Linked DNA regions of Homo sapiens. The protein of the gene in region 1 purifies or fractionates together with the protein of each later gene. This does not show direct contact. Each region holds a gene or a part of one and is shown on either strand. Other genes may lie near its edges.

The links.
Region 2: the proteins of UBE3C (region 1) and VSIG1 purify together in Homo sapiens (co-immunoprecipitation; one large-scale study listed by IntAct). This does not show direct contact.
Region 3: the proteins of UBE3C (region 1) and ANXA7 purify together in Homo sapiens (affinity purification with western blotting; one study listed by BioGRID). This does not show direct contact.
Region 4: the proteins of UBE3C (region 1) and ASB4 purify together in Homo sapiens (co-immunoprecipitation; one large-scale study listed by IntAct). This does not show direct contact.
Region 5: the proteins of UBE3C (region 1) and USP13 fractionate together in Homo sapiens (co-fractionation; one large-scale study listed by BioGRID). This does not show direct contact.
Region 6: the proteins of UBE3C (region 1) and RRM1 purify together in Homo sapiens (affinity purification with mass spectrometry, with the first as the bait; one large-scale study listed by BioGRID). This does not show direct contact.
Region 7: the proteins of UBE3C (region 1) and PACC1 purify together in Homo sapiens (co-immunoprecipitation; one large-scale study listed by IntAct). This does not show direct contact.

The regions. Positions count from the first base shown.
Region 1 is NC_000007.14:157,207,901-157,212,300, forward strand, and holds part of UBE3C (ubiquitin-protein ligase E3C), read left to right. Parts: coding exon 1-35; intron 36-4,400. UniProt on the Homo sapiens protein: E3 ubiquitin-protein ligase that specifically catalyzes 'Lys-29'- and 'Lys-48'-linked polyubiquitin chains.
Region 2 is NC_000023.11:108,076,065-108,080,584, forward strand, and holds the end of VSIG1 (V-set and immunoglobulin domain-containing protein 1 isoform 2 precursor), read left to right. Parts: intron 1-12; coding exon 13-154; intron 155-983; coding exon 984-1,317; 3' UTR 1,318-3,120; downstream 3,121-4,520.
Region 3 is NC_000010.11:73,379,185-73,383,584, reverse strand, and holds part of ANXA7 (annexin A7), read left to right. Parts: coding exon 1-8; intron 9-239; coding exon 240-410; intron 411-3,383; coding exon 3,384-3,554; intron 3,555-3,630; coding exon 3,631-3,706; intron 3,707-4,400. UniProt on the Homo sapiens protein: Calcium/phospholipid-binding protein which promotes membrane fusion and is involved in exocytosis.
Region 4 is NC_000007.14:95,537,570-95,541,260, forward strand, and holds the end of ASB4 (ankyrin repeat and SOCS box protein 4), read left to right. Parts: intron 1-1; coding exon 2-190; 3' UTR 191-2,664; downstream 2,665-3,691.
Region 5 is NC_000003.12:179,785,540-179,789,939, forward strand, and holds the end of USP13 (ubiquitin carboxyl-terminal hydrolase 13), read left to right. Parts: 3' UTR 1-3,862; downstream 3,863-4,400. UniProt on the Homo sapiens protein: Deubiquitinase that mediates deubiquitination of target proteins such as BECN1, MITF, SKP2 and USP10 and is involved in various processes such as autophagy, endoplasmic reticulum-associated degradation (ERAD), cell cycle progression or DNA damage response.
Region 6 is NC_000011.10:4,097,492-4,101,891, forward strand, and holds part of RRM1 (ribonucleoside-diphosphate reductase large subunit), read left to right. Parts: intron 1-4,400. UniProt on the Homo sapiens protein: Provides the precursors necessary for DNA synthesis. Catalyzes the biosynthesis of deoxyribonucleotides from the corresponding ribonucleotides.
Region 7 is NC_000001.11:212,379,729-212,384,128, reverse strand, and holds part of PACC1 (proton-activated chloride channel), read left to right. Parts: intron 1-4,091; coding exon 4,092-4,234; intron 4,235-4,400. UniProt on the Homo sapiens protein: Chloride channel gated by pH that facilitates the entry of chloride ions into cells upon exposure to extracellular acidic pH. Involved in acidosis-induced cell death by mediating chloride influx and subsequent cell swelling.

The DNA.
Region 1 (4,400 bases):
AGATGGAACAGAAAAGATGGATTCAGTTATTTAAGGTATAGAGTATATGTATTTTTTTGTTTACTGACATTGAAAAATGTACAAACTTTTGTCTTGACTCGTTGCAGAGGAATAAAAATGCAGGTTTGTTTCAGACATGTTTTAATTTGCAAGACTTTTTTTTTTTTTTTTTTTTTTTTTTTTTTTTTTTTTGATACATGGACTTGATGTGTCTCCCAGGCTGGAGTGCAATGACACCATCATACTCCACTGCAGCCTTGAACTCCTGGGATCAAGCAATCCTCTCACCTCAGCCTCCTGAGTAGCTGGGGCTACTGGCACATGCCACCACACCCAGCTAATTTATTAGTTTTTTTGTAGAGACAGAGTCTCACTGTGTTACCCAGGCTGGTCTCAAATTCCTGGCCTCATGGATTCCTCCTGCTTCTGCCTCCCATAGTGCTGGGATTATAGGCGTGAGCCACTGCAGCTGGCCTATATACCTTTTTAATTAAGAAAAGTAATTTTAGTACTTTTGATTAATTAAGGTAATTTAATTAACTAAAATTACTTTCATTTTAATTTACATTTGCCTCACTTAAAACCATGTTTTTAAACCTTGTTACATGCATCTTTTCTATGTGGCCCTAACTACTTAACTGTGACACGATGAAATATAAATACAGTTTTTAAAATGTTTTTATTTTTCACTAAATATTTCTTAGATTTTATTGTTTTTTCAAACCTTTCAAAAATTGATTAACAACGTAAAGTAGGTCATTAATTTTTAATGCTAGTTGTATATAAATTATTTTAACATATCTTCGTTCTTAACCAGAAAGTGAAGTTTTGAGTTACTGTGGCTGGAATGTTGGCAGGAAACCACCACCAGTGAGAATGTAACTGTTGGGATGGAAAAAAAGAAAAGGAAAAGGGTGCTTGACTTCCCATGAAATTTCTGCAGCAAACACATCTAGTCAGCTAAAATTGCTCATTAAAGGAGTGAGAGCAGAAGAAATGCATTTTCCAAATTGAATGCTAGATTTACAGTCCGTTTAATACCAGCGACCTCTCGCACACTAATGTTCAGTTCGAGTCATCAGCTGTCCCTTTGGGTCTTTTATCACTGCTTTTGTCAAGCTATCTATTTAATTGAAAGAAGTTAATTGAATGAAAATGATCAACTAAGCTTGTATTAATATTGCTAATGGAACTTTCTTCTTGGCCATGTTTGGAGAAAGATGTCAAGCTAGACTTTAGGAAGGGCCCATTAATGCTTGCACTTAACCTGATGGGCTAATTAAGGAATGCTTATTCATCCTCCAAGTCCACGAGAGTCTCTCTCCAGCCCGTTCTGCCTGGTTTTACAACACATTTCTCTTAGGAGCATGAGCATTAGCAGCAGCAGCCGTAACTGATAATGTTTTGATTGCACTGAATACAGTCCTAATGCATCGTTGAATTTATAATTTGGGCAGATTGATGTAATATATGTTTGCACAATTTATTTTAATTACCTATTTCTGTATTCCTAAGTAAACTGGGACGGTCACATGGTAAGCCTTTACTATATCCTTTCTTAAAGATTGACAAATTTGCAATTTTTCTATGTTAAAAAATAAGCAGTCTCACCTATTTAAAACTTATAATTCTTACATAAGCTTTTCCTGGATGTGGGTGTTAACGGTAGCATATTTGTTTTCCTTTCAATATTTGATTAAACCCTGGGGTCTTTGTTAATAAAGCTTTCCATGATGTGCAATATCAGGTGTTGTGTATGATATCAGATAATTTCACTGTTTTATGGCATCTGTTGAGAGTTTCATAATTTCCATGACAGGCTTATCTTTAGTATGTAGAAATCTCTGAACTTAATAATGCCATATAAGATATTTTCCACCCTGGCCTTATTTTGTTTTGGTTAAGCGTTAAATGAAAAGTTTGTACAGAATTTTTTTATGCCTCAAAATGACTCCCTGCCACTTTATTCATCATTGAAAGTTTTAAGAGTTAGGGCAAGGCCGGGTGTGGTGGCTCACGCCTATAATCCCAGCACTTTGGGAGGCCAAGGCGGGTGGATCACGAGGTCAGGAGTTTGAGACCAGCCTGGCCAAGATGGTGAAACCCCATCTCTACTAAAGATACAAAAAATTAGCTGGGCGTGATGTACGCCTGTAATCCCAGCTACTAGGGAGGCTGGGGCAGGAGAATTGCTAGAACCCGGGAGGCAGAGGTTGCAGTCAGCCGAGATAGCGCCACTGCACTCCAGCCTGGGCGGTAGGGTGACTCTCTCTCCAAAAAAAAAGAGGGTGAAAATTTACCTTTTTTTTGTTGGTGGTGGTGATTGTTTTAGGTTTGAAATCAAGTTGTTGTAAGACCTTTTGAGTTTAGAATTGTTTAAAGACCTTTTTTTTTTTAAAGGATTTCTGTTCTTTGGTCACCTGTCCCCCAAACCATTTTATGCTACCTGCTATTGAGCTGAGCCCCCAAAATAAAAATCACTGCATAATTTTTGAGTAATCAGCTGCTGTTAGCTGTTCTTTTAAGAAAATACTATCTCTATTATGAAGTTGTATGAACTTACACCTCTGTAGTTAACTGTGTTTTAGGCAGTATTCTAAGAGTTTTGCATATATTCATTTAATACAATAGTTCTGTGAGAAAGATACTATAATTTGTTTTACAGATGAGGTCATGTATATGATGGTAGAACCAGCTGCTATTCTACACTCCCCTTCTGAAAAGAATACAAATTGTATCAGCATTTTTCATATTATTGTTGTGCCAAATTTGAGTTGAAGAATTCGAGGTAGAATCAACCAAAGAACGCAGAAGCGTTTAGCCCATGATCTCCTGCCTTCCATTGATTTTGACAGAATTGCAAACGATGAGACCTGACTCCTTCAACACCGACCATTTTCATTTTTCAGTCCTATCATGGTCCTCCCAAAGTCATTTGTGTGAGAGGCTCTGCTGGCTGGTCACAGAGCATAGAATTTTAAGTGGATAGAGTCATCTTTCTTTGTCACTGTAAGAATTGAGGTCACTTTCTAAGCCCTGTCTTGACACTGCTAAAACAGTTTATGCATTTATCAAATTTATAAACTCCTCTTGAAGTGTAATTTAGAGCTATAATTACTTTAGCTTGATGAGATAGGAAATCCTGTTTTGAGATGTCTGTGTGCATCCACCAAACTTAACAGGAGTTTCCTCCTGTGATAGGGAAACAGGAGGAAGTGGCAGGGAATGAGGAGGAAGGTTCCCATGCCCTCATTATCCATATGTCTGGAGAGAGAGAGAGAGAGAGAGAGAGAGCCATACTATGAGTGATTTTTTTACTTCCTTAGTGGTTAAGTTGTATTTTTTCAGTTCCAAAAAGCTATTTTTAAAAAGTAATAAAGCAACAGCAGTGCCCTGTTAATATAATCCTAACATGCGACCATTTGACTATGTTACAACCAAGAGATCCAAAGCTTGTAGCGCTGTGCCTTATCCTTTTCTGTTATTGAAGATTTTGATTGATTTTGTTTTTGTTTTTTGACTACTAAAGTGGATGCTATATGCAGTAATTTTATAGTGTTTTAAATATGTGCTGAAGAATACTGTTTTTCAAAATACTCCAGTTTTTAACCCGTTTGTGCCAGAGGTTGCGAATTTTTTGTGTGAAAAATCAGGCCTTGGCAATGACCTTGAGCAGTAGAATATAAATCCCACAAGCTTAGCGTTCCAGTAATGGAACACTAGGCATAAATGGGTTAACAAGTGGTAACTAAGGGCTATATAAAATTTGGTTAACCCTTGACAGCAGCAGTGCATACCAGATACTTCATGACTTTCATAGGTTAGAGTGTTTTATTCTCAGTTATTTGAACACTCACAGTATTCATCCCACCCATAGTGACACAGCTCTATGCTAAGGGATCATAAATGAATTCACACAGGGTGCCTGTTCCTGCAGTATCACCACGTAGTGAAGGAGACATGCATTCAGCTAATGACAGTGGGAAACAGCAAACCACAGAGGCCGGTCCTGTGGAAGCACACAGGAGAGAAGCACCAGCTGCTGCGTCATCTGGCACTTGACTCACTTGAGGAAAACGGTTGTTTTCCAACGAGGTCATGTTCTTAGAGCTTTTTCTGACATGTTACTTTTATATATTCTTCTTATGAAGTCAAATTGTAAAAATCCATTCTCATTTGATGTATTTCCCACATTGCACATTTATTGCACTTCAGAACCTGGAAATTGTATGCTAAGTATGCTTTGTATTTTGCTTTTTAAAGAACTAACTCATCTGGTTTCAGGACTAGATCTACTGTAGAAAGAAAAAAAAAAATTAACTCAGTTGTTTGGTTTTAGTTACCAGATTTTACATATCACATTTAAGATAAAAAAGATACTTTTATTTTATGTTATGATG
Region 2 (4,520 bases), on another chromosome or scaffold:
TGTATCCTTCAGATCCAGAAGTTGGAATCATTGTTGGGGCCTTGATTGGTAGCCTGGTAGGTGCCGCCATCATCATCTCTGTTGTGTGCTTCGCAAGGAATAAGGCAAAAGCAAAGGCAAAAGAAAGAAATTCTAAGACCATCGCGGAACTTGAGTAAGCCTTCATTTTGTTGTCTTTACTTGAATACAAACATTTCTCAGGCATGTCTTTTTCAGTCATCAATTCCTAAGCACTCCTTTTAGTATAAGATATCAGAGGTATCTTTCTGTTTACTCTCATTGAATTTAAAAAAGAATGATGATGGCTGCTATTTATTGAGTGCTGTGTGCCAGGCTCTGTTCTAAGCACTTTATGTACATCAACTCATTTAGCTATCACAACAGTTTTAGGTCCAAGAAAACATTTTCATATATAATACTAACATACTTGTCTTAATACCAACATAGTCATGAAATATAATTTTAAATTTTTTTATGGAACAAGAGACCCACAAGGACAGTGCCCAGGGAACACAGAAGTTAGAATGTGGCCCAGCCCACAGCTCATGCTCTTAATCACTCTATTTCTTTCCTAGTGTGTATCTCACTCATTCATTTTTTTTCATCTCCTTGCTTCTACAACTATCTATTGGGTATCAACCAGGTGCCAAGTATTGTACTAGATGGAGTGAGAAATAGCGATACATCAGAGCTATGAATTTGGACCTTAAAGACCTTATTAGATTCTTAGACTCTTTCATTCTGACATTATTTTCCCACCTTGAAACACTGCTCTTTCTTAAACTTTCATGATATTGTTGAGACCTAACCTTTCTGAATCCAAAATGACCTATGGCCTGACAATGAGTCAGAATATCAGAAATAACAGATTTCCTGAAGTCTGGGACCTATGGTCATTGAAGCTACAGAACATATGGTTTCACATGAAATTTCAAAGTTAGCATCTCCCTAACTTGTTCTTTTCTGGGCCTTCTTTCTTGCAGGCCAATGACAAAGATAAACCCAAGGGGAGAAAGCGAAGCAATGCCAAGAGAAGACGCTACCCAACTAGAAGTAACTCTACCATCTTCCATTCATGAGACTGGCCCTGATACCATCCAAGAACCAGACTATGAGCCAAAGCCTACTCAGGAGCCTGCCCCAGAGCCTGCCCCAGGATCAGAGCCTATGGCAGTGCCTGACCTTGACATCGAGCTGGAGCTGGAGCCAGAAACGCAGTCGGAATTGGAGCCAGAGCCAGAGCCAGAGCCAGAGTCAGAGCCTGGGGTTGTAGTTGAGCCCTTAAGTGAAGATGAAAAGGGAGTGGTTAAGGCATAGGCTGGTGGCCTAAGTACAGCATTAATCATTAAGGAACCCATTACTGCCATTTGGAATTCAAATAACCTAACCAACCTCCACCTCCTCCTTCCATTTTGACCAACCTTCTTCTAACAAGGTGCTCATTCCTACTATGAATCCAGAATAAACACGCCAAGATAACAGCTAAATCAGCAAGGGTTCCTGTATTACCAATATAGAATACTAACAATTTTACTAACACGTAAGCATAACAAATGACAGGGCAAGTGATTTCTAACTTAGTTGAGTTTTGCAACAGTACCTGTGTTGTTATTTCAGAAAATATTATTTCTCTCTTTTTAACTACTCTTTTTTTTTATTTTAGACAGAGTCTTGCTCCGTCGCGCAGGCTGTGATCGTAGTGGTGCGATCTCGGCTCACTGCAACCTCCGCTCCCTGGGTTCAAGCGATTCTCCTGCCTGAGCCTCCTGAGTAGCTGGGACTACAGGCACGTGCCACCACGCCCGGCTAATTTTTTGTATTTTTAGTAGAGATGGGGTTTCACGTTGTTAGCCAGGATGGTCTCCATCTCCTGACCTCATGATCCGCCCACCTTGGCCTCCCAAAATGCTGGGATTACAGGCATGAGCCACTGCGCCCGGCCTCTTTTTAGCTACTCTTATGTTCCACATGCACATATGACAAGGTGGCATTAATTAGATTCAATATTATTTCTAGGAATAGTTCCTCATTCATTTTTATATTGACCACTAAGAAAATAATTCATCAGCATTATCTCATAGATTGGAAAATTTTCTCCAAATACAATAGAGGAGAATATGTAAAGGGTATACATTAATTGGTACGTAGCATTTAAAATCAGGTCTTATAATTAATGCTTCATTCCTCATATTAGATTTCCCAAGAAATCACCCTGGTATCCAATATCTGAGCATGGCAAATTTAAAAAATAACACAATTTCTTGCCTGTAACCCTAGCACTTTGGGAGGCCGAGGCAGGTGGATCACCTGAGGTCAGGAGTTCGAGACCAGCCTGGCCAACATGGCGAAACCCCTTCTCTACTAAAAATACAAAAATTAGCTGGGCGTGGTAGTGCATGCCTGTAATCCCAGCTACTTGGGAGGCTGAGGCAGGAGAATCGCTTGAACCCAGGAGGTGGAGGTTGCAGTGAGCCGAGATTGTGCCACTGCACTCCAACCTGGGTGACAGAGTGAGATTCCATCTGAAAAACAAAAACAAAAACAGAAAACAAACAAACAAAAAACAAAAAATCCCCACAACTTTGTCAAATAATGTACAGGCAAACACTTTCAAATATAATTTCCTTCAGTGAATACAAAATGTTGATATCATAGGTGATGTACAATTTAGTTTTGAATGAGTTATTATGTTATCACTGTGTCTGATGTTATCTACTTTGAAAGGCAGTCCAGAAAAGTGTTCTAAGTGAACTCTTAAGATCTATTTTAGATAATTTCAACTAATTAAATAACCTGTTTTACTGCCTGTACATTCCACATTAATAAAGCGATACCAATCTTATATGAATGCTAATATTACTAAAATGCACTGATATCACTTCTTCTTCCCCTGTTGAAAAGCTTTCTCATGATCATATTTCACCCACATCTCACCTTGAAGAAACTTACAGGTAGACTTACCTTTTCACTTGTGGAATTAATCATATTTAAATCTTACTTTAAGGCTCAATAAATAATACTCATAATGTCTCATTTTAGTGACTCCTAAGGCTAGTCCTTTTATAAACAACTTTTTCTGACATAGCATTTATGTATAATAAACCAGACATTTAAAGTGTACAATTTGATGAGTTTTGACAGAGCACATACCCATGAAACCACCACACCCATCTAGAGAGAAAACATTTCCATCAGCCCAAAATGTTTCTTCATGCCCCTTTGTGCGATCCCACCATTGCCCTGGACCTAGGAAATCACTCATTGTTTTCCATCACTAGAGGTTAACTTTGCCTTTTCTTGGCCCTCATACATATGGGATGATACAGTATGTACTTTTTGTGTCTCACTTCCTTCTAAGGTGAATCCTTTTTAAACAAAGTAGTGAGTTTCTCATTTATCACTTTCAGATTTTCATGTAAAATATTTTCTTAAACTGCAAACTCCTTTCTATATAAATCATAACCATACACAGATTGAGGTAGAGTCTCTGTAGGTTTTAAGGAGAGTTAAAATGGAAATTAACATTACACTTATCTAGAGCCATGGAGAGAAGAGATAGCAAGCGTTTATTTCTGCATTTTCTTCGATGCGTCCATTTTCAGAAAATGTCAGGGATTTCTGATGCATTTATAATTTCATTCATACTAAATATGATAGTATGGTATATGGTGTCTGATGGACACAAGAAGCAAAATAATGAAGGTCTTAAGAATGACCTAATATTTAGAGATTAAAAAGTAAACAACAGTGTAAACATCTCAATTACCAGAATGCCCAAGTAGCTGGAATTCATTTTTCCTTTCCATTTTTATTATAGAGGCAAATCGCAAGAGACTGACATGTAATAGTCAACAATTACACCCCAAAATTTTTGATGGATCAGTGCAGTCCAGGAAAGAAAGCACTACTGGTAGTCTTATAGAGCTCTGTCCTTATTAGCACTGTTCTGTTCAAAATACTGATGAATAGTTGGATCAGTGGCTTGTAACCTTTTTCTGAGGTCATGGAACACCTTGAGAATCTGCTGAAAACTCTAAACTCATCTTCACTGAAAGATGCTTATACACATAAAGTGTCACATATAGTTTCAGGTGAGTTACAGACTCCCTGAATCCAAGATGAAGAAACAGTTACTTAGATCAAAACACACAAAGTACACTTAATAAATTTGTGGATGACTTGCTCCTAGGGGGAATGGCCACTAGGCTATAAGAAAGAATCACGATTCAGAATGATCTTGATAGCTCAAAAGTGGAGTTGAAACCAACAAAATGAATTTGACAGGAATAAATAGAAAAATCTGGATTTAAAAATATGAAGTACATGTTGCCCAGGCAGAAACCCTACATGGGCAAGGTTAGGAAGCACATGAGATTAATCTGAATTCGTACCTTTGGATCTCTCCTTTCAGTGCCATTTCTGGCCTTGTGGCATCTTATTTTCCAAACACCCAGGATTCTCATGCTCCCATTAGCTCAGTGACCCTCTCAGTTCTTCTTCCCTCGGGCAAGACTCATTGC
Region 3 (4,400 bases), on another chromosome or scaffold:
CAATGCAGGTACTACTATATGTCATTTATTATGAATATTTTGTCCTATTTCATATGTAAAACCGTACAAATTATGACAGTTCTGAATTTACAGTGGTAATTAAAGCAATTCTTTATTTCACATCATCCATCTGAATATATAGTTTTTAGTTCTACAGAACAAAGAAATATTTGACGAAGATTTAATTACTTGCAGAAATTTCATTTTTCTTTGTATAATCTTCCCTTCATTTCATGTAGGGAGCAGGAACTCAGGAACGTGTATTGATTGAGATTTTGTGCACAAGAACAAATCAGGAAATCCGAGAAATTGTCAGATGTTATCAGTCAGAATTTGGACGAGACCTTGAAAAGGACATTAGGTCAGATACATCAGGACATTTTGAACGTTTACTTGTGTCCATGTGCCAGGTGAGTATAGTATGAATGCTTGTGCGTTGATAGAGGGAACATACTTTAAAAGCCTTTTGCCAGTGAGCATTCTTTATTCCTTTTAATATTTAGCCACCTTGCAATATTGCCATCTTTAAGAGGGACAACACAGAAACCAGTGTACAGATTTCTTTGTAGTTACTATTGAGATTTATTCCTGTAAATCTGGCTTTTGTAAGGAATTAGAGATTTAACCTCTAAGGTTGTATGGAATCAGAAACCAATTCGAGGCTCTGTGGCTGGGATGGGGATGAAACTGTACATTTGAGCTTATCACTATCCTGCCCATTATGCCCCACCATCAAGTGAAGATGTGCAGGACTGCCATAGAGGTGCTACAGGAAGTGAGGACTATGTGAGGAGACCCAGAAATGCAGAAAAATGTTTTAGGGTTCCCAGTAATAACTGTGATTAGCACCTTCTTTATTTTGATTCCCCAGGTGTGCTGGAGAATTGACAGAAAATACTCCAAATAGGGTATTTGGAATGGCATTAGAAACACACTTAGGGCCAGACATTGTGCCTCACACCTGTAATTCCAGCACTTTTGGAGGCCAAGGCAGGAGGATTGCTTGAGGCCAGGAGTTTGAAGCCAGCTTGGGTACCATAGCAAGAAACCATCTCTATAAAAAATATTTTTAAAAATTAGCCGAACATGGTGGTATGTGCCTGTAGTGCCAGCTATTCAGGAAGTTCAGTGGGAGGATCACTTGAGCCCAGGAGATTGAGGCTGCAGTGAACTGTGATCGCACCACTGCATTCCAGCCTGGGCAATAGAGTGAGATCCTGTCCTTAAAAAAAAGAAAAGAAAAAAAGAAAAGAAGCACACTTAGATGATGAAGGTGTATTTGAAAGAGATTATGTAAATGACTAGCATGCTGATTCAATATCAAGAGTTATTGCCTATTGTGCTAGTGCACAAGATTGGACCATCTGGAGGGATCTAAAGGAGAGGAGGGGCTCTTAAGAGCCAAGGGAGGGGCTGGGTGTGGTGGTTCATGTCTGTAATCCCAGTACTTTGGGAGGCTGAGGCGGGTGGATCACCTGAGGTCAGGAGTTTGAGACCAGCCTGACCAACATGGTGAAACTCCATCTCTACTAAATACAAAAAATTAGCCAGGAGTGGTGGCACCTGTAATCCCAGCTACCTGGGAGGCTGAGGCAGCAGAATCGCTTGAACCCGGGAGGCAGAGGTTGCAGTGAGCTGAGATTGTGCCATTGCACTCCAGCCTGGGTAACAAGAGCAAAACTCCATCTAAAAAAAAAAAAAGGGAGGTAGCTGTGGAAAGGATAGTGGATATGGAAATGAGAAAGCAAAGTAAATGGGTTGAAGGAAATTGAATTTACCTAAATCAGAGTAACAGGAGGGCAGTAGGTTAGGATTTAAAAGAAACAAGAAGGAAAACAGACAATGCTAAAAAATGGCTATTAAGATTTTACATGAGGTGCTGAGTCTCTCTTTATGCAGAGTTCAAGGCCCAGCCCTACCTTTTCCAGGGCATGAGTAGAGGAGTAACTTCCTGAGAAAGTGTGTGTGAATCCAAAGGCAATAATCTGGGAAATTTTTTGTGAGTACCTTTTCCTGTGTTATATTCAGTCGCCCATGTAGAATGTGCCTCTACGTATTCCTTGTGCCAGTTGCTCAGAAGACAGTTCTTCAGCTTCAAGGAGGATTTTTCCATCTTATTCCAAAGATGGTCCCTGAGACTCTAAAAGGCAGCCTTTTCTTGTTTGGGTTTGTCTTTCTGTTTTTGAGAGAAACCAACTGCTCATTAAGCTTAAACTCTTCCTTCCTCCTTCCTTTCTTCCTATTCCAGGGAAGAGTGTGGTATACAAATAGGCACAGTCTAACAGAACATGAGTTATTTGTAGCTGCTTCTGTAAAGCTTATGTGTCATTTTTATGCGTGTATTTATGGTAAATACTTACATATTAAGATTATAATTCGATGGCTGAGTGTGGTGGTGTGAGCTTATAGTCCCAGCTACTCTGGAGGCTGAGGTAGGAGGATCACTTGAACCCAGGAGTTTGAGGCTATGATCATGTCTGCAAATAGCCATTGCACCCCAGCCTGGGCAACATAGTGAAATCGTGTCTCTTAAAAAAAAATATTATACTCAGATGAAGAAAAGAAAGTTTATGAAGCCTCCATATTATATCCTCCCTCCCTCCTGCCCTAGAGTTAAATTTCTTGAGGGCAGAGACCCTGTCTCTCCTGTGTCCCTACCGCTTAACACAGTGCCTGACACAAAGAAAGTGCTTAATGTCTCTTAGTCGCATGAATGAATAAAAAGTAGAACTCAGTACAGTGCATATTGATCTTAAATTCCAGCTAAGAGAGCTGTTTCTTCATTTGAGTGGTAGTTAATATCTCCTAGTAGAGATATTTTTGTTTAAACATTTTGGGTTTAATTTAGCTCCCAAAAGCCCTCATTTTTAACATAACCTCATTAAACCGTGATCTTATATTATAAAATCCAGTTGACAGTATAATAAATTACTAGTTATATTTCCATGCATAGAAATGAAGCATATGCATGACAGACATTATGGATTAATCTTTAATAAATTATCTCTTTAGGCCAGGCCCAGTGGCTTACATCTATAATCCCAGCACTTTAGGAGGCTAAGGCAGGAGGATCACTTAAGCCCAGGAGTTAGAGACCAGCACCTGGGCAACATAGTGAGACATGCTGTCTCTACAAAAAATAAAAAAATTAACCAGGCATGGTCGTTTGTGCCTGTAGTCCCAGCTATCTGGGAGGCTGAGGTGGAAGGATCACTTGAGCCTAGGAGGTTGATACTGCACTCCAGCCTGAGTGACAGAGCAAGACCCTATCTCAAAAAAAAAAGAAATAGTCTCTTTAAATCCAAAAGTGAACTAGATTGGAAAAAAAAAATTTAGTAGAACTATTATTTATTTCTTCCAATTCCTGCCTTTCTCTTTTGCAGGGAAATCGTGATGAGAACCAGAGTATAAACCACCAAATGGCTCAGGAAGATGCTCAGCGTCTCTATCAAGCTGGTGAGGGGAGACTAGGGACCGATGAATCTTGCTTTAACATGATCCTTGCCACAAGAAGCTTTCCTCAGCTGAGAGCTACCATGGAGGCTTATTCTAGGGTATGAGCTTTTCTTTTGAAGATTTGGCTTCTGCTGTAAGATACAAAAATATTTAACCCTTTAATTTTGTTTGCAGATGGCTAATCGAGACTTGTTAAGCAGTGTGAGCCGTGAGTTTTCCGGATATGTAGAAAGTGGTTTGAAGACCATCTGTAAGATATTTTTGTGCTTTGCTTTATTTTCTTTTTAAATGAGTGGGAGCTTTGAATAGTTGTTCCCATTAAATGTTGATAATATAGTCCACGTGGAATCTGCTTAGGCAGTAGCTGATCTAATCCTTTGGGGTTTGTTTTTTGTTGTTTGTTTTCTTTATTGGATAAGCCCCCAGAAACAGTCCTGTGTTTTTACATACAATTTCCTATGAATGGTAGTTCTGTGATCAAACAGGGCTGTTTGGGGATTATTTGGCCTTCATCTGTAGGCCTGTCTTGATAACTGTGCCAGAATACCTGATAGTTGTAGCACTTCCTTTAAAGAGAAAGGGAAAGTCCTGAGGAACTCACAGTGTCACCACGAAGCAGTTTGAGTCCTCAAAACAGATATTTCAGGTACTCAGCCCAGTGAGACTCATTTCCTTTTTGAAGTTAACCAGTTTCTGGTGGTCTAATACACAGATGTCTAACAAAGTGAAAGTTTCATTCTCATGGATATTAGGACTAAGGGGAGTATTAGTAACACTTTGGTATTAACAATGGAATGTTGGGCCAGGGGCAGTAGCTCACACTTGTAGTCCCAGCTACTCAGAAGGCTGAGGTGGGAGGATCACCTGAGTCTGGGAGGCTACAGTCAGCCATGATTGCACCACTGCACTCTAGGCTGGATGACAGAGTGAGAACCTGTCTCAAA
Region 4 (3,691 bases), about 62 Mb from region 1:
GAAATACTGGGATTTTTACCACTCTCTCTTTACTGTGTGCTGTAACTCTCCAAGGACTCTCATGCACTTATCGAGATGTGCCATTAGAAGAACATTACACAACAGATGCCATAGAGCAATTCCTTTGCTTTCCCTCCCATTGTCATTGAAAAAGTACTTGCTTTTAGAGCCAGAGGGAATTATTTATTAAGCCTTATGAGACAGCAGTTCCCAATCCTAGGTATTTAAGTGGACTTGCTGGGTAGACACAGTTTGCCTAAATAAAATGGTACTTGGGTTGATTATAACACTTCAGGGATTTCAAAACACTTTACAAACACTGCCATTAATCCTAGAATATCATGGTATGGGGAAATAAAGAAGAAGTAAAGTTAAGGAATTTTCAAAGACAAGGATGTATTCAGAATGTACTGATAGAACAGTAATAACTAATATGTATAGTGTTCTTACTAAGTACCTGAAATATTTTTGTAAAACTTCTTATATCTTATCTCATCTGAAATGGGACCCAGGTTTTCTTCCAACCAATATAATTCTGTGCCTTATCAGTAATATGTTTACATTCTCATTCAAATGGCCATATAGCAGGCTTTGCAATTGGCCTCTTAAACTTGGTGTTTTCCCCCATTACCCCTTAGCAGTAATTACTGTCACTAGTTTTGCAAACTCCTACTCCCCAAACCAAGCTACTCAAGTTTATTTCAGTGATGAAGGCATATGAGCATAGTCAAAACAAGGAGATCTTGGAGTCAAATTAGAAATGAGAAAGAAACATCAGTCCAGTTAATAGTCAAGAATGGACATTTGAACCAGACATCACTGAGCCAGAGACTGGAGATGCAAAGATGAGTCCCATGTGACTCCTGCCTTCCAGGATCTCACCATTTAGCAGAGGATCCAGACATACACACAGCTAACTGCAATATAAAGTGATGGGGCAAGAGTACAGGTGCAGACTCACTTTTAATGCTTATCTTTCAAAGTTGTGTTTCTGACATGAAGTGTGATTTTTCTTTTAAGCATGAAGTTAAAGAGTGAAGGGGTTATGTAAAGTAGAGGGATCTCCTGCTCTTGTTAGGGTATTTTTAAGGTTTTTTCTAGATAGTGTGTCTTTTTGGTATGGTTTCTTGGTTAGTATTAATACTTTCCCAGACTCCTTGAGAAAAATATTGCACACTCAATGGCTCCAGTGCATGTGACAAGGAAGCATAGGAAAATGGGGGAAAGAAAGTGTGTGAGGGGACCTAGTTGATTACTTCGGTCTTTTTATGTAGCAGACTGACATTTCATAGCATTGTAGCTAAGAGATAAGGAGCACTTTGCTAGTGACAGTGGGCTACGAAAAGTAAATAGAGAGACTTTTTGAAAATGGTAAAAGTTTGAGAAACTTGGGAAGATTAGTGTGTTAATCAGGCTTGCTAGTTAGTGGATTGCAGAAAGAAAAATGTAGGTGATTAAGCTCTGGGCCTTGTGGTTTATGAGGTCAATTTTGCTTCACTTTTTTTTTTGTTCTTGCTATAATCACTTTTAGATAAGCTCATTGCTCTTAGCATCATTTTTTAGAGGTTAAAGCAGAAGTAAATTGCAAACAAATCTGTCAGTTGTGAGCAGATTTCTTTTATGTGTGTGGTTCTCCATCATATTTAACTTTGGATGCTGGAGTGTTGAATAGAGATGATGTCAGATATTCCAATAGGCTATCATTTAATGTTAACTGGCAATCACCTAACTGGTTAATCTCAGTTGAGACTGTGCTTCTGAACTGGGATTGTCTTACTCCCAGGGCTGTGTAAGAAAAGTCATAGGTGGATACAATAATCTCTTTTAAGTATCAGTTTTACTCAGATATTTTGGTGGAGATATTTTGTACTAAAACAAGATCTATATCATGGAATAGAATGCTGAATTTGTATGAATTATTCACATAAAGCTTGATCTTTCAAAAAATAGTTTGCTTGCAGCAAGTGGTATTAGAACACATCCTAAAACAGAATGAAATGATGTCTTTTGCAGCAACTTGGATGGAGCTGGAGGCCATTATTCTAAGTGAAGTAACTCAGGAATGGAAAGTGAAATACCATATGTTCTCACTTATAAGTGGGAGCTAAGCAATGAGGATGCAAAGACATCCAGAGTGATATAATGGACTATGGGGACTTGCAAGGGGAAGCTTGAGAGTGGGGTGAGGGATAAAAGACTACATATTGGGTACAGTGTACACTGCTCCAGTGATGGGTGCACTAAAATCTCAAAATTCACCACTAAAGAATGTATCCATGTAACCAAAAACCACCTGTACCCCCAAAACTATTGAAATCTTAAAATAGTAATAATTAACAAAGTAAAACAAGATCACACCCTGGAACAATTGGAGGATTGCTTGCTGCCCTGCATCTTAAGGCGTATTCTAGCAGCAAAGCTTGTGATGCACTGACTTGGGGCAAGTAAAACTGATGCTGAGGACAAAGGGAGAAGATGTTCCTCGCCCAGGGAAATGAAAACTTTTCTTATTCACCTTGCTTGTGCTTAAACACTTATGTTCATCTAGTGTAGAATACATGGCTACTTGTTTGTAATTTTTTTATTGGTGGAATTAAAGTAATTTTTCCTTATCTTTGAACTTTTATTTAGAGAACTTAAATAAAGCTCTTCTGTCTCCTTTCATCTTTGTGTTTACTTACCAATAAGACTCTTTTTCCTAACCCCGCTTTGACTTTTCAGCAATGACACTGAAGAACTCTACACATTTCATTGCTTTTATCAACAGTTAAAAAGAAAAAGAGAATCAGGGATTGTGCCTGTAAATAAATAATGTTTTCAAAAGAAAGTAAAGGGTAACTGTGGCCAAAACACAAATACAATGCAGCCTCTTGCTGTAAGAACAAGTGTGTTTTAATAGTAGTAAAGAAATTGTACTGAATCATTCTCCTCTGCCTCTCACCATCTCTGTCCTCCTGGGGTTTTTCATTTTCCTTCATTCTCACTGTCCACTAAACCCTGGGCAAAGCAACAGAGGAAATTACATCCTCATGACGCCTTTGTTACTTTCTTAGAAAACTTTCTGTAAATAGGATCTACTGTCTTGAAGAAAAAAACAATCTCTCTTCTGAAACTTACATGAGAGGAAGAATCTTAGATATGAGGGAAAGATCACCTATCTTGTTTTCTCTCCTTCTTAGGAACTAGACACACTTGTGTTCTATTTTTTAATCATCGAGTGTTATGTCTCTACTTTGTCCTTCCATTCTAAACCCAGTGGGTTCTGATAAAAACACAGTAGTCGAACGATGATTGTAGGGATAAGAAAAGTAACAAACCATTTGCAGTGGGTTATCAATGTTGGAAAAGACAGCTGAGTCTTACGTTTTTATTACTCATCTGATTGTTTGTGAAGAACTTACAAAGTTCTAAGTTGGTACACTTTCCAAACTTTTACAAATGAATTCAACTATTCACCCATTTTCTTTGAAACACAAACACCACAGCTAGTATCTGGAAGGAATTCCTGTTACTTTCTTTAGGAGGATAAAGTAGATGCATTACAGTTAGGTGTTTGGAGGTTTGGCTCTGATGCTCTCTGTCTGGGTCCCCTCTTTATCTGACTCATAATATAGGGAAAATGACACACCTGCTCCAGGCCTCAGTTTTTTCATTTGTAAAATGAGAATAGTCACGGTGCCTACTTCATAGG
Region 5 (4,400 bases), on another chromosome or scaffold:
TATTTGGTCAAACGAAAAAGAATTTATTGCTGTCTGTTTAACATGTATTTGTTTGGTTGAAAGGATCTTTTTAGAAACTGTAGGAAAATAAACAGAACCAACCAGGTGAAACAAAGCACAGACATTGGGTTAGGATGTAGTGAGTTGTGAACAATCAGGATTCTGGGTGTGATGGGGGTCCCTGTCTCATAGGTGATCCTTTGGTGCCATGTGACCGAGAGACATGGTGTCTAAGGCCCATGGCCTGGAGACCTGGGTGCTGCTCCTAGCTGACTGTGGACCTTGGGCAAGTCCTTCATCCGTCCTGTGCCTCACTGTCCTCATCTGAACAATGGTATGATGACACCTGCCCTCTCTTTCAATCATGCTTTGAGGATACAGTGAGATTGGTTACAGTGAACCTTCAATGAGTAGAATGTGGTATGCCATGGTGGGTTGTAGTAGATGGTGCTCCCTGCCTTTTCTCCTCTGTTTTCCTCAATTTGGGAACAAATGAGATTGGCAGAAGGAGGGAGCTCACGGTGCAGTACTTTTCTACCAAAGTGTGCCCACTGGTGTCACCTCCTAATGTTAACTTGGATTTCCTAAAGCAGTCCCACTCTGTTATGAGAGTCACTGACTCCCGTGGACATCCCCACAGTAAGCAGCCTTACAAAATCCAGTCCCCTTAGGGCAGAGTGAGTGTCATAGAATAATGACTCCAAACCCACGTCAAAAATGGCTTGTTTTCAGCGATGTTATAAAACAAAGGCCTGTTTTTTGGAATTGGGGGTGACTGGGTGGTTTGGATTGAAATGTGGACAAAGATAGCATGTGTATTTTGAATAAAATAAAAATTTTGTAATAAAACTTTTAAAAATCAGTGATGTAAAATCAATATTTAAGACTATAGGCTATAAATTGTTTGATTTCATTAACTAGCCCTTTTGATGCCTAGACATGTTGTAAAAAAATTGTGCTATGGCTGCCTTTTCTTCTGCCCCACAACACAAAGGGCTATTTCTACAAGGCAAAGTTTTGTATATGTGCTATTCTTTACTTCAGATTGAGAGTTGGGAAAAACTGGAGTAAATAATGGGTTTCTTACTTGCTTAAAAGCATATTTATATGTGTATCTCAATATATACAAGGCAGGTTCCCCTATAAAAGTCTGGAATGTACTGCTTAATTTTACACTTGTGTAGACACGATTATTTGTGACTGAAAAGTGGAATAACGTGTGGATTTTGTCAACTCATTATCAGTCTGTTAGCAGTCCTCTATGTGAGGCATGGTGGTCTAATTGTGAAATTCTCCCTGTATATGGGTGTCTGTGTGAAAGACAGCACTTTCTTCCTGTAAATATCTTTTGATATCCATTTATGTAGAATTCCAATGAATATGTCTTTGGAAAAGGTAATGTATCAAAGTTTTTATTTTGCCAATTGATCTAAATGCCCATATAACTAATCAGAAATCCAGTTTGGTTCAGATTGGGATTTTCTTTTAAAGAAAAAAAAAGTATGCAGAAAAGACTATTGGAAGAATCATGTGTTAGTGACACTTTACATCAACGTTGCTTCAATATTTTGGAATTGACCAGGCTGCTTTCTCCTACCTGCAAGAGAATGTGCCTGACATTTCCCAGTGCTTACTTTGGGCTATAGGAAGTCCAGCGGGGATAGCTCGAGCCTCTTGCTCCCTGAGTCATTTATTCCCTTTACCTGAACAGAGCCTTACCTGCAATTCATAGTGAGAGCACCTGGGTCTGTATCCTGACTCCACTCTAAGTGAGGTGGGACTGAATCACTGTACCTCTCTGGGCCTTTTCATTTGAAACAAGTGGGTTAGACTAGATTAGCTCCAAAGTCCTCTCTTGCCCTAACATTTTATTTTTATTTTCCTGTGGTTACCACTAGGGTCTGACACGTAAAATGTGAGGGATCACTTAGAGGTTTGGATGTTATATTTTTGCATTGTTACAGCTTATACTCCCCAGTTGAGGACCTGTGTCATTCTTAGTGGCCCCACGACCCCTCTGTTTGTATTCCTGCTCCACTTATCTATACTTTTTTGGGTAATCATCCCACTTTTTTTTTTTCTTGAGATGGAGTCTCGCTGTGTTGCCAAGGCTGGAGTACAGTGGTGCAATCTCAGCTCACTGCAGCCTCCTCCCGGGTTCAAGTGATTCTCCTGCCTCAGCTTCCCAAGTAGCTGGGATTACTGGCGCACGCCACTACGCCCAGCTAATTTTTGTATTTTTAGTAGAGACAGGGTTTTGCCATGTTGGCCAGGCTGGTCTTGAACTCTTGACCTCAACCTGCCTCAGCCTCCCAAAGTGCTGGGATTACACGCATGAGCTACCGCGTCCAGCCCCACTTTTTTTCTACTCTTGAAAAAAACAACTTTCTAGTCCATGAGGTACTTTGGCTCCATCCCCCTCAAAAACAAAACAAAAAATCCATTTAAAGTGTCCTCCTAGAAAAGCCTCAGAACTGCCTTCAACTACATCTGTCACCTTTATAGAATATTTTGAAATTCTGGAAGAGGATGGGAAACAAAATTCTAATTTAGCTAGAGCTGTGATCCCCAAATAAGTGCTGACAAAATTGTCTACCACAGAAAGGCCGTCCTTGTCATCTTGTAGGCATCACTGCTGCTAAATCACATCAGTACATGCCTTCTGTGGGGAGATGGCAGGGGGCAGGGGCAGGACCAGGGGATGGGATTAGATAAAGTGTGATAATGTCCTTTAGATAAAAGAAATCCTACGCTATAGAACAAGGTTCTGTACTCTTGAGTTGGTGTCTGAGATCACCTGCACAGTGTTACAGAGATTTTCCACTCCATAAATCACTCTAAAAGAGTTTGCATAAGACTCGGTAGACCTGTGCTATTCAATGTGGCAGTCAACAGCCATATGTGGCGATGACTACTCAAAGTTTGGCTTGTTCAAATCGAGACTGTGTTGTACACATACAATACACACCAGATTTTGAAGGCTTGGTACCAAAAAGGAATTTAAAATATTTCACCAATATTTCATATTGATAACATGCTGAAATGACACTATTTTGGATGTACTAAGTAAAATATTAACAATTTAATATATTTATATAATTGAAATTAAAATTCTTTTCACCCATTTTTATTTTTTTAAAAATGTGGCCCCTAAAGAACTTCAAATTAGACATGTGGATAACGTTATACTTCTATTGGACAGCCCCACTCTAGACTTACATGGTGTGGGGTAGGCAGTGAAATCCGTAAATAGGAAACGCAATTCTGCAAAGTATCTAAATAGACAGAAACAACACAAATATTTTTGCTGGAGTCAGGAGCACTGTGAGGCACAGAACATCTCCCAGAAAGCAGATTTTTTTTTTCTGCCGAAAAACCAATATATATATGTATGATCCCAATTAAAAGACAAAAGCAAATGAGCCCCAAACTGCCTGTCTTCAGCTTTGCCTGGGAGCTGCTACCTTTGCTCTTCTAGCATCTTCTAGGTACCAAGGATATTAGCCACTTGAGGGTGTTGGGCATATTTGTTTCATTGTAGGCAAAATCCTCTTGTGGTTTCCCCTCCCCAGGTATTGTTGAGTCTGTTCAAAGCTGGGTGTGTTGAAACACTGCACAAATCCTGCCACTCTTGATGTGCCGCTTGTCTCAGCCTTGGCAGAGGCTGAGTCTGTTCCTGTGCCCACCTGTCCAGCAGGTTTTGATGTTGGCTCCTGAAAGAGTTTGTATTTATTTTATTTTGCACTAGTCACAGTTGTTGTTAAACTGTATCAAATGTTTTGGGAGATTATTTGCCTGAGATGGAAAGAGAGATGGATGATTTATTGCTTCAATTGTTTTAAATTAAAAGCTATTCTCACAATCTGAGGCCCTTTATGGCTCTTTTTTTCTTTAATTTTGAAAAATGCCAAGTAAACGGATTCTGCCATTGATTGTTTTCATCTGTCAGTGGAACAGGTAACTTGAGACAATGACTAATCTTATTTCTTTTTAGGGGTTCTTGGCGTTACCAGGCAGCCATCACAGTGGACCATCAGTGGTGGCACATTGTTACCTCTGTGGAGGAGGGAGGATTTGGGGCAGGGCGGAGTCTCCTGCCTTGGACTTTATCTGCTGGATGTCATGTCACAGATCTTTCTCTTGTTCCCTAGATCTTGGTTTGCTGACAGCCCCCTTAACACATATAAAAGCAGAGTGGGCACACGCTATGTCCAGAGACTTAGGCATTTCGATGACACTGTGTCTCTAAGGCGTATGAGTTCTCTCTTGCTGCTGTGACAAATTATCATGAACTCGGTGGCTTAAAATAATACATGTATTACTATGCAAATGGTCTTACAGGGCTAAAATCAAGGTGTTGGTAGGGAAGCTGTAAGGGAGAATCAATTCCTGCTTTTTCT
Region 6 (4,400 bases), on another chromosome or scaffold:
TTAATGTTTTTTAATATGCATAGGGTTTTTGGTTTTCTGGACTTTTTTTGTACCCCCTTATTTTTGGCATGTCAGTGGAATAGCAGACTAACTCCTACAGTTTTTGTTAATTTTCTTTGAGATGGGGTCTTGCTCTGTCATCCAGGCTGGAGTGCAGTGGTGTGATCTCAGCTCACTGCAGTGTCTGCCTCCTGGGTTCAAGAGATTCTCCTGCCTCAGCCTCCTCAGTAGCTGGGACTACAGATGTGTGCCACCACGCCTGGCTAGTTTTTGTTATTTTTAATAACAAGGGCAACTGGAAGTTGACTTTGAAGTACCTACTGAATATGCTAATGTCTTGCTAAACACTGTGAGGGCAGTAATGGAGAAGGCAGCTCTATCTTCAAAGAACTTAAAATTGTTAGGGATTTAGGAACAATCCATATGAAAATTATTAGATAGAAGAGAATAGTAGATGAGTTTTTTTCATCTGCTATCTTGAGCTATTTTTCCTAATGGGAGAGTATCATTCCTCAAGGAGATTATGGTTAAAAAAATAAACATTGAGAACCATTGCAGTAAATGACAAAGTAGCTAACTGAGTTGTAAACTGTTTTGGAATTTAGTGTAGTATTTTCAAAACTTTGGATTGTAACTCACAGTAAAAAACAAAACATTTTACAGACATGTGTATATATGTGGATACACATAAAATGATACAAAAGTTTACGAAATAATGTCTTTGAAAGCATCCATTTGCACTCTAATCTTTCTTTTATTCCAGATTCTTTCCCTATCCCTGCCTCCCTCCCTCCCTTCCTTCCTCCCTTTCTTCCTCCCTCCCTTCCTTCCCTCCCTCCTTGCTTCCTTCCTTCCTTTCTCCCTCCCTTCTTTCCTGCCCTCCTCCCTCCCTCCCCTCCCTCTCCCCCTCCCTCCGTCCCTTCCTCCTTCCTTCCTTCCTTCCTTCCTATTCCATTCACAGCCTGCTAATATTATTTTACAACTCTGTGGATACCGTGCTGTTCACCGGGATTGCAGTGATGAGTAGGCAGACATGGTTCCAGCTTCCAAAGATCCTACAATCAATTGAGAAAGATAGACAAATAAAGAAGTAATATGATAAAATATGATAAATACTCTGATAGGTAAAGTATAGGCAGTAGAGGCCATTCATTCAGTTATTCATAAAGCATTTATTCAGCACCTCTTTGTGCTAGGAACCGTTGTAGGCATTAGAGATTCTGCAGTGAACAAAGCTAAATTACATTTCTCATTGAGTTGACTTCTTGGTGTGGGTGGGAGTGGTAAGTGTATATAAGAAATAAGAAGTAAACATAATAATCAGTTAATTTCAGATACTGATTAATGAGATGATAGTAAAACAGGATCATGTGATAAAGATGAATGAGAAAATAACCTTGGATTGGGTAGCCAGGAAAGGCTTCTCTGAGAAGCCAACATTTGAGCTGAACCCTAAATAGTATTAAGAGCTAGTAATGTGAGATCTGTGGCCTGAACATTCTCGGCAGAGGGAATTAGAAAGTTTGTATCCTGTGGAAAAGGCACGCATCCTTGGTCTTACAGGATTAGGGAAGTCTTCCTGAAGAGAGAAGAATGAAAGACAGTTTATAGCCAAGAGGAAATCACACTAGTATGCTAGAGGATTTTTTAATTTTATTTTTTATTTTTTGAGACGGAGTCTTGCTCTGTTGCCCAGGCTGGAGTGCAGTGGTGTGATCTTGGCTTACTGCAACCTCTGCTTCCCAGGTTCAGGCAATTCTGCCTCAGCCTCCCGAGTAGCTGGGATTACAGCATACCCAGCTAATTTTTTTTTTTTTTTTTTTGTATTTTTAGTAGAGATGGGGTTTCACCATATTGGCTAGACTGGTCTCGAACTCCTGACCTCAGGTGATCCGCCTGCTTTGGCCTCCCAAAGTGCTAGGAATACAGGCTGAGCCACCATGCCCTGCTGGCTAGAGGATTTTAAAAGAGGAAAAGGTCAGTGTGAGTTAAAAGTGGTTGAGGCAGGTTTTATGGAGGTGTGAGATTTGGAGGGTGAGTAGGAGTTAGATGTATGGAAAGGTGGAAGAGGAACCTTTAGGCAGAGTAAGGTATAAGCAATGATGTGGATATGGGAATGGGAAGCCCTCTTGGGACTTATATTTCACAGGGAACAGTTGAAGAGATCTGGGGCCAAACTAAGAAAGGCTTTGCTTGAGAGAAGAGGATAATGTAGGCAGTGAGAAGCAGGGATTAGTGATGTGATAAAATCAACATCTGGCTTGAAAAACTAACCAAGTGGAATGACAGAATAGAGAACTGTGTGTCATTGGACCTTTAGATCTTTAGTCTGCCTCCTATTTTCAAGTGTGAGTTAAGATAATTACCAATGCACTTTTTTTTTTTTGTCAGTTTCCTGATTGACTTCAGAACTTCTGGCAGTTGTAGAATTTTCTTTTTGCTAAGTTGCTTTCCCCCCCCACTGCATGTATAATTGCAGAACGCTAATGTTGCTTTGCAGTTACCTGCCTGCTTAGTTATCCAATTGCTAGAGCACTGAGGTTTCAGTCCCAGTGCCAGCCAGTTAATTTACCCCATTTCAGAGTTAAATGCTGCAGATGTGAGCCTGATGAGAAAATTATCACAATGGTGATCAGAAAGAGAGGGGCTAACATATCAGTGTAGAAGAAAAAGCAACTTGTTCTAGTGATAATGGGTTAATAGTGATGTCTTATTGTTCATTTATTCTTCATCAAATGTTTGAGAACTTGCCTTGTTCTAGGCACTAAATTTGAGAATACAGATGTGAATCAGAGGGCCAAATAAATGTAAACATATTTAGCATGTTTCTTATTGGTTACTTCAGGTTGAGTATCCCTTATTCAAAATGCTTGGGCCCAGAAGTGTTTCGGATTTTGGATTTGTTTCAGATTTTGGAATATTCGCATTATACTTACTGGTTGGGCATCCCTAATCAGAAAATCCAAAATCTGAAATGGTCCAAGGAACATTTTCTTTGAACATTGTGTTGGCATTGAAAAAGTTTTGGATTTTGGAGTGTTTTGGATTTTGGAATTTTGGATTAAGGATACTCAGCCTATAGTTACAATGGATTGTAGGTGCACAAAAGAGACAAAAACTAAATCAGTGTGAGACACTAACATTTATTGAGTGCCTATTGTGTATCACATACTGTGATTTTTTTTTCCCCCATAGGAGCAGCTTTATTTTATAACGAGGTATAGTTGTAACTATGCCAAAGTTGTTACAACAAAAGCACTTTTTACCTTATCTAATTTTATTGTCACAGTAAACTGATTAGGCAAGTAAAATAGATATAATAATTAACCCCTTTCTACAAATGAAGATCTGTGAAATGACTGATTGTGTTTTGTGGCTTGTCTAAGGTTAAGGCTGTTTGGTGGTTGGATATATTCACTATTCCTGGTAAGAATAAATAAAGGTCGGATGAGCTACTATTTGAGGTTAAACTAAGAGTAGTAAGACTTTTTTGTCTAGAAGGACAAAGATATAATCTAAGTCCAAAATCATGAAAAATATTAGGTAAAATATATAGTATGTCAGATGGGGTAAGTGCAATGGAGAAAAAGCACAGAAGGGGAAGGGGGATAAGAAGAGCAAGGGTCCTATTTGGGGCATTGCAATTTAAAATGGAATCATCAGGGAAAGCCACATTGAGAAGGTGATGACATTGAGCAAAAGACCTAAAGGAGATATATAGCAAGAAGGCCAAGTTGTCAAGGTACAATAGGAAGGAAGGTGGGAGAGTTGGAGGTGAAATTGGGAAGTGGGTGCACAGGACAAGTGGTATAGGATTCTGTGGATTTTTTTTTTTTTTTAGTTGGAGTTTCATTCTTGTTGTCCAGGCTGGAATGCAATGGCGTGATCTCAGCTCACTGCAACCTCCGCCTCCTGGGTTCAAACAATTCTCCTGCCTTAGCCTCCCGAATAGCTGGGATTATAGGCCCCTGCCACCATGCCCAGCTAATTTTTTGTATTTTTAGTAGAGACGGGGTTTCACCATATTGATCAGGCTGATCTCGAACTCCTGACCTCCAGTGATCCACACCCCCCCCCGCTCCCTTGGCCTCCCAAAGTGCTGGGATTACAGGTGTGAGCCACTAGGCCTGGCCTGTGGATTGTTATAACAATTTTGACTTTTATTCTGGAGATCATAAGCCACTATTAGGAGTTTTGAAGGAGGTAATGATATGATTCTGAGTTTAACTTTTAAAGGGTAATTTTGGCTGCCATGTGGGATGGGGGAAAAATTTAGGAAATTATCCGTAAACGTCTGTCTGTATAGAATTCATACTCTTTGAAGGTGACATCAGAGAAGACAATCTCTTCATGAATCTTTTGAGGGGGCCTCAATCTTTTCTGTGAAATAGCACTTCATG
Region 7 (4,400 bases), on another chromosome or scaffold:
GCCAGATTGGTGGAGCAAACAAATTAGAGCAAATCCCTAACCCAAAACAGATGAAGGAGAGACCTGTTGTAGAGGTACAAGCTTTCCTTCCAAACCCCCAGCTTGGAATCAGCACCGTTAGAGAGCAGGGTAGTCATTACTGGACTGCCTGTTGGCTGGGCCAGACACACCCTATACCCTCCCCAGGTATGCAGAGCCGCTGGGGATGGTTGCCTCTGGGTAAAAGACCCTGGAACCATTCTCTACAGAAGCGAAGGGAAGATGATTCTTTGTGTAGGCATAGGAAACAGAGCAGACTTCTACAATGGAAAAGGAGAGAGAACTAAAGGAAAGGACTCTTCCCAGAGTAAAACACACTGGAAAACTCAGTGTGCTTCCACAGAGCATACTTAGCTTTCCCATGCAAGGGAGAGGCCTATTAGAGAAACAGAAATTTACTACTTTGGAAGAAACCAAAACCCAGACCTATACTAGTCAACCTAATCCTTCATTCATAAATAAGAATGGAGAATTAATGGTCACCAGACATTTGCATGAAACCAATGACAGAAAAGGACCAAGATGAACAAATAGAATGGACTCTAGAATAGGGAAGTAGAAGCTAATTAAAACAAAAAGGAAAGCAACTTTTAAACAATTCCAATGTGGAGTTATATGTATAATAGAAGCTCTTTGTCTGGATTCCCAGCTCCCTTCATCTCTCTGTAAAACACGCTAATGAAAACTCGTGGCTGCTTCCGTCCCACTAGGTGCCTATTCTCTGGATGCCCTCCTCTCCTCCCCCAGTTGAAGTGTATGCTTAGGAGGAGTCAGTGAGGGTCATTTCCAAACCTGTGTAGGCCAGTTGCACTTGTTACAATAGTTACATAATTCGACTAAAGAGTGTAAAAACCCTTGAAATAAGGGCACAAAGAGAGAGTTGTTTTTATGGAAATGAAGTTGAATGCAGCTACTGCCCCCAAGTCTGAGTGTTGGTTCATCTCCTCCATCAATTTCTTGAAGTCCACAAGCTATAAACTAACAGAGAAGTTATCTCCTCCCTATCCACCAAGTTTCCTACCCAAACCAGCATATAGCAGTGGAGGAAGAATATGATGAGAGCAGTAGAGCTCCCATTTGGAAAAGGAAGAAGGGGAAGGGCCCGCAGCTCTGCTCTGCAGCAGTGGTGGAACCCTGCAGGGTGGGACCGGTGAGACGCCTTCTTGGCATGAAGTAAGCTCCTTGGTTTGAACCTGTTGCTGCCCTCAGAAAGAGACTCCTGTGTGCTCTGGCCTCGTCCCCTGGGAGCTTCTGCCTTGGTGGTAATGCTCTGTGGCCATATCTGAAGTGGACATTAGAAAATACGCCCTCCCTGGTGGCTGCACAGCTTGTGCCACTCACTTCCTGCTTGTGTGAGCAGCTTTAGGGCTAAACAATTGCAAACTTGGAGGGCGGCTTCTTACCTGCCTCCTGCCACTGCCTATGTTTGCAGTGAGATTTCAGAAATGTGTAGGCTTCTGGCTGTTCGCATCTAATCAAGTTCATGTGAAAGTGACCCCAGTCGAGGGTCTCATCCTGTTGTATTTGTAAAATCTTCGGAATTTTGCTGATTTTCTGGTGCTTTCTTTCATGCTCTCAATTTAATGGTAGTTATTTTTTACCAAATGCTCTGCTCTGGCACAATAAGGTTTGCCACCTTTCCAGCCTGCGGGATCCTTATCTATTTCCTTACTGCCCGCCATTTTCCCACTGCCCAAATGTTTGGCTGTTCCCTCATTTTGATTTTTTTTGCAACCATAAAACACTCCAGCCGGGCGTGGTGGCTCATGCCTGTAATCCAGCACTTTGGGAGGCCGAGGCAGGTGGATCACGAGGTCAGGAGATCGAGACCATCCTGGCTAACATGGTGAAACCCCGTCTCTACTAAAAATAAAAATAAAAAAATCAGGCGTGTGTAGTGGCACGTGCCTGTAGTCCCAGCTACTTGGGAGGGCAAGACAGGAGAATCGCCTGAACCCGGGAGGCGGAGCTTGCAGTGAGCCGAGATCACGCCAGTGCACTCCAGCTTGGGCAACAGAGCGAGACACCGTCTCAAAAAAAAAAAACAAGAACACTCCAGTGTCAGCTAACAAATTGTGTATTAGTCAGAGTATAGGCTAAGCTACCAAATAAAAACAAAACCTGCAAATACAATGGCTGAGATGAGGGAGAAGCCTCCTTCTCTCTCTGAGAACAGTCCTGGCATGCAGGCCGTGTGGCGTAGTGGGCAGTACTGCCTCATAGGATAGTCCAGCCATGACTTTTGTCTTGTCACTGTGCTGTCCCCTGGGCATTGTTCTGGTCCATGTGGGCAGTGTGTGTGTGTGTGTGTGTGTGTGTCACTGTGCTGTCCCCTGGGCATTGTTCTGGTCCATGTGGGCTGTGTGTGTGTGTGTGTGTGTGTGTGTGTGTGTGCAGTGTGTGTGTGTGTGTCTGTGCACATGCCCAGGCCTGGGAAGGTGGAGGGCAAGCAGTTCCCTTTTCAGGAAATGGGGTGGAGTTGAATGAGTCCCCTTTTCTTTCGCACATTAGGAACTTTATCACGTGGCTACATTTGAGGGCAGAGATGAGGCTCCAGCAGGGGGAGTGGATTCTGCTGAAATCTGGGTTGGGAAAGCCATTCTAGTACTAAAGGAAGAAATGGATAATAGAAACCAGGGACAGTGCTTTCTGTTGCACACTTAAAACAAAATGGTACAGAAAGGTTGAAAAATAAATAGATGGACAAAGCTGTCTTGAGAAGATGCAACGAAAACCAGAAGTGACAATATTAATAGTGTGGAATTCCACGTGCAAAAGTTTGCAAGAAGGATGTTTAATATTGATAAGAGGTTCAACTCCATACTCTCCACTAAGACGACTGAACAGTTCCAAAACTTTATGTACAAAACAGCATGACATTTATATATTTTAAGCAAAACCCGTTAGAAGTAAAAAATACCATCACTTTAGAGCACGATTTAAACACCCCTCTCAGAAATTCACAGATCAAATAGACAAAAACTAGAAAGGATAAGAATTGAATAGTGCAGTTAATAAATTTAGAGTATGTATGTGTGTGTATACATGTGGGGGCACAAAACTTTGTAACTGACAGTGTACTCACTCTTTTTCAAATCTCTGTAGAGCATTTATTTATAAAAGTTGATGTAAAAGACATTTTTTTCTAAAATTAATCTATAAATTCAGTTTCTATCACAGTTAAAAGTCCCAGTGAATTTTTTTGTGGAACTAAGCAAGCTAGTCTTAAAGCATACTTAGAACACGTTCAAAAATAACCAAGACAAGTTTGGGGATGGGGAAGAGTAGTAGGGAGAGCACCTTCCCAGATCTCAGAACAGTGGAAAAACCACAGGAATCAAAGTGGCACAGTACTGGACAGAGACAGACAAATGTGTGGGCTCTGCTAGGGCCAGAAGCAGACATAGATATTGGTTCTGCATGGAATTTAGTATAGGATAAAGGAGGGAGGGGAAGAGGCTTCAAAACCTGTCTCTATGCATTGTTTGGGAAGTAGGAGTTAGAGCCCTATTTCACACTATATACAGAGCTTAAAGCCAGGTATATAAAGTATCTAAATGTAAAAAAGATTAAAAAGTGCTATAAAGAAATAGAGGAGAATATTGATATAATTTTGGCTTTCCTCAGCAAGCAAAACCCAAAGCCGTAAAGAAAAGGATTTAAGGTTTTACTACGTTAAATTTAAAGTTTCCATAGGACAAATGACATTGGAAACAAAGTTAAAAGAAAAATGACAGACTGGAAGAAAAGATTGGCACACATAACAGATGAAAGTGATCATCCTTGCTAAATTAAGAGCTTCCATAACTCAAAGAACCAATGAGAAAAGTGGACAGAGGATGAGCTGCATTCAGCTCTGGTTGGGCATCATATGGGGAAAACTCCCCAGGAATGAGCATGAGTCCCAGCCCAGTCCTGTTGTTGGCTAGTGGTCCCTTTGGAGACCACTGGGCAAGGAGCTATGGGCTTTCCAGTCAGTACTTCTGCCCTCAGACCCAGAGGCCTCTGTGTACTCTCCCAGGACTGAGACTCTGTCCTTTTTCTCTCTGCAGAAATCTGCCCTGATTGTCCAGGGGCCCCGGGAAGTGAAAAAGCGGGAGCTGGTCTTCCTCCAGTTCCGCCTGAACAAGAGTAGTGAGGACTTCAGCGCCATTGATTACCTCCTCTTCTCTTCTTTCCAGGAGTTCCTGCAAAGGTGGGCTTTTAGAGTTCACAGTGGGCTTACTGTCTACTTTTTATCTTATTCCAGCTGTGTATGTCCCAAGGCTAGAGACGGAGGGGTGAGGGCAGGGAAGGGAAGGGGCATTCTCAGATGACCCACTGGCCCAGGAAGGGACCTCATGAGCTTGGCCGGTCCACTC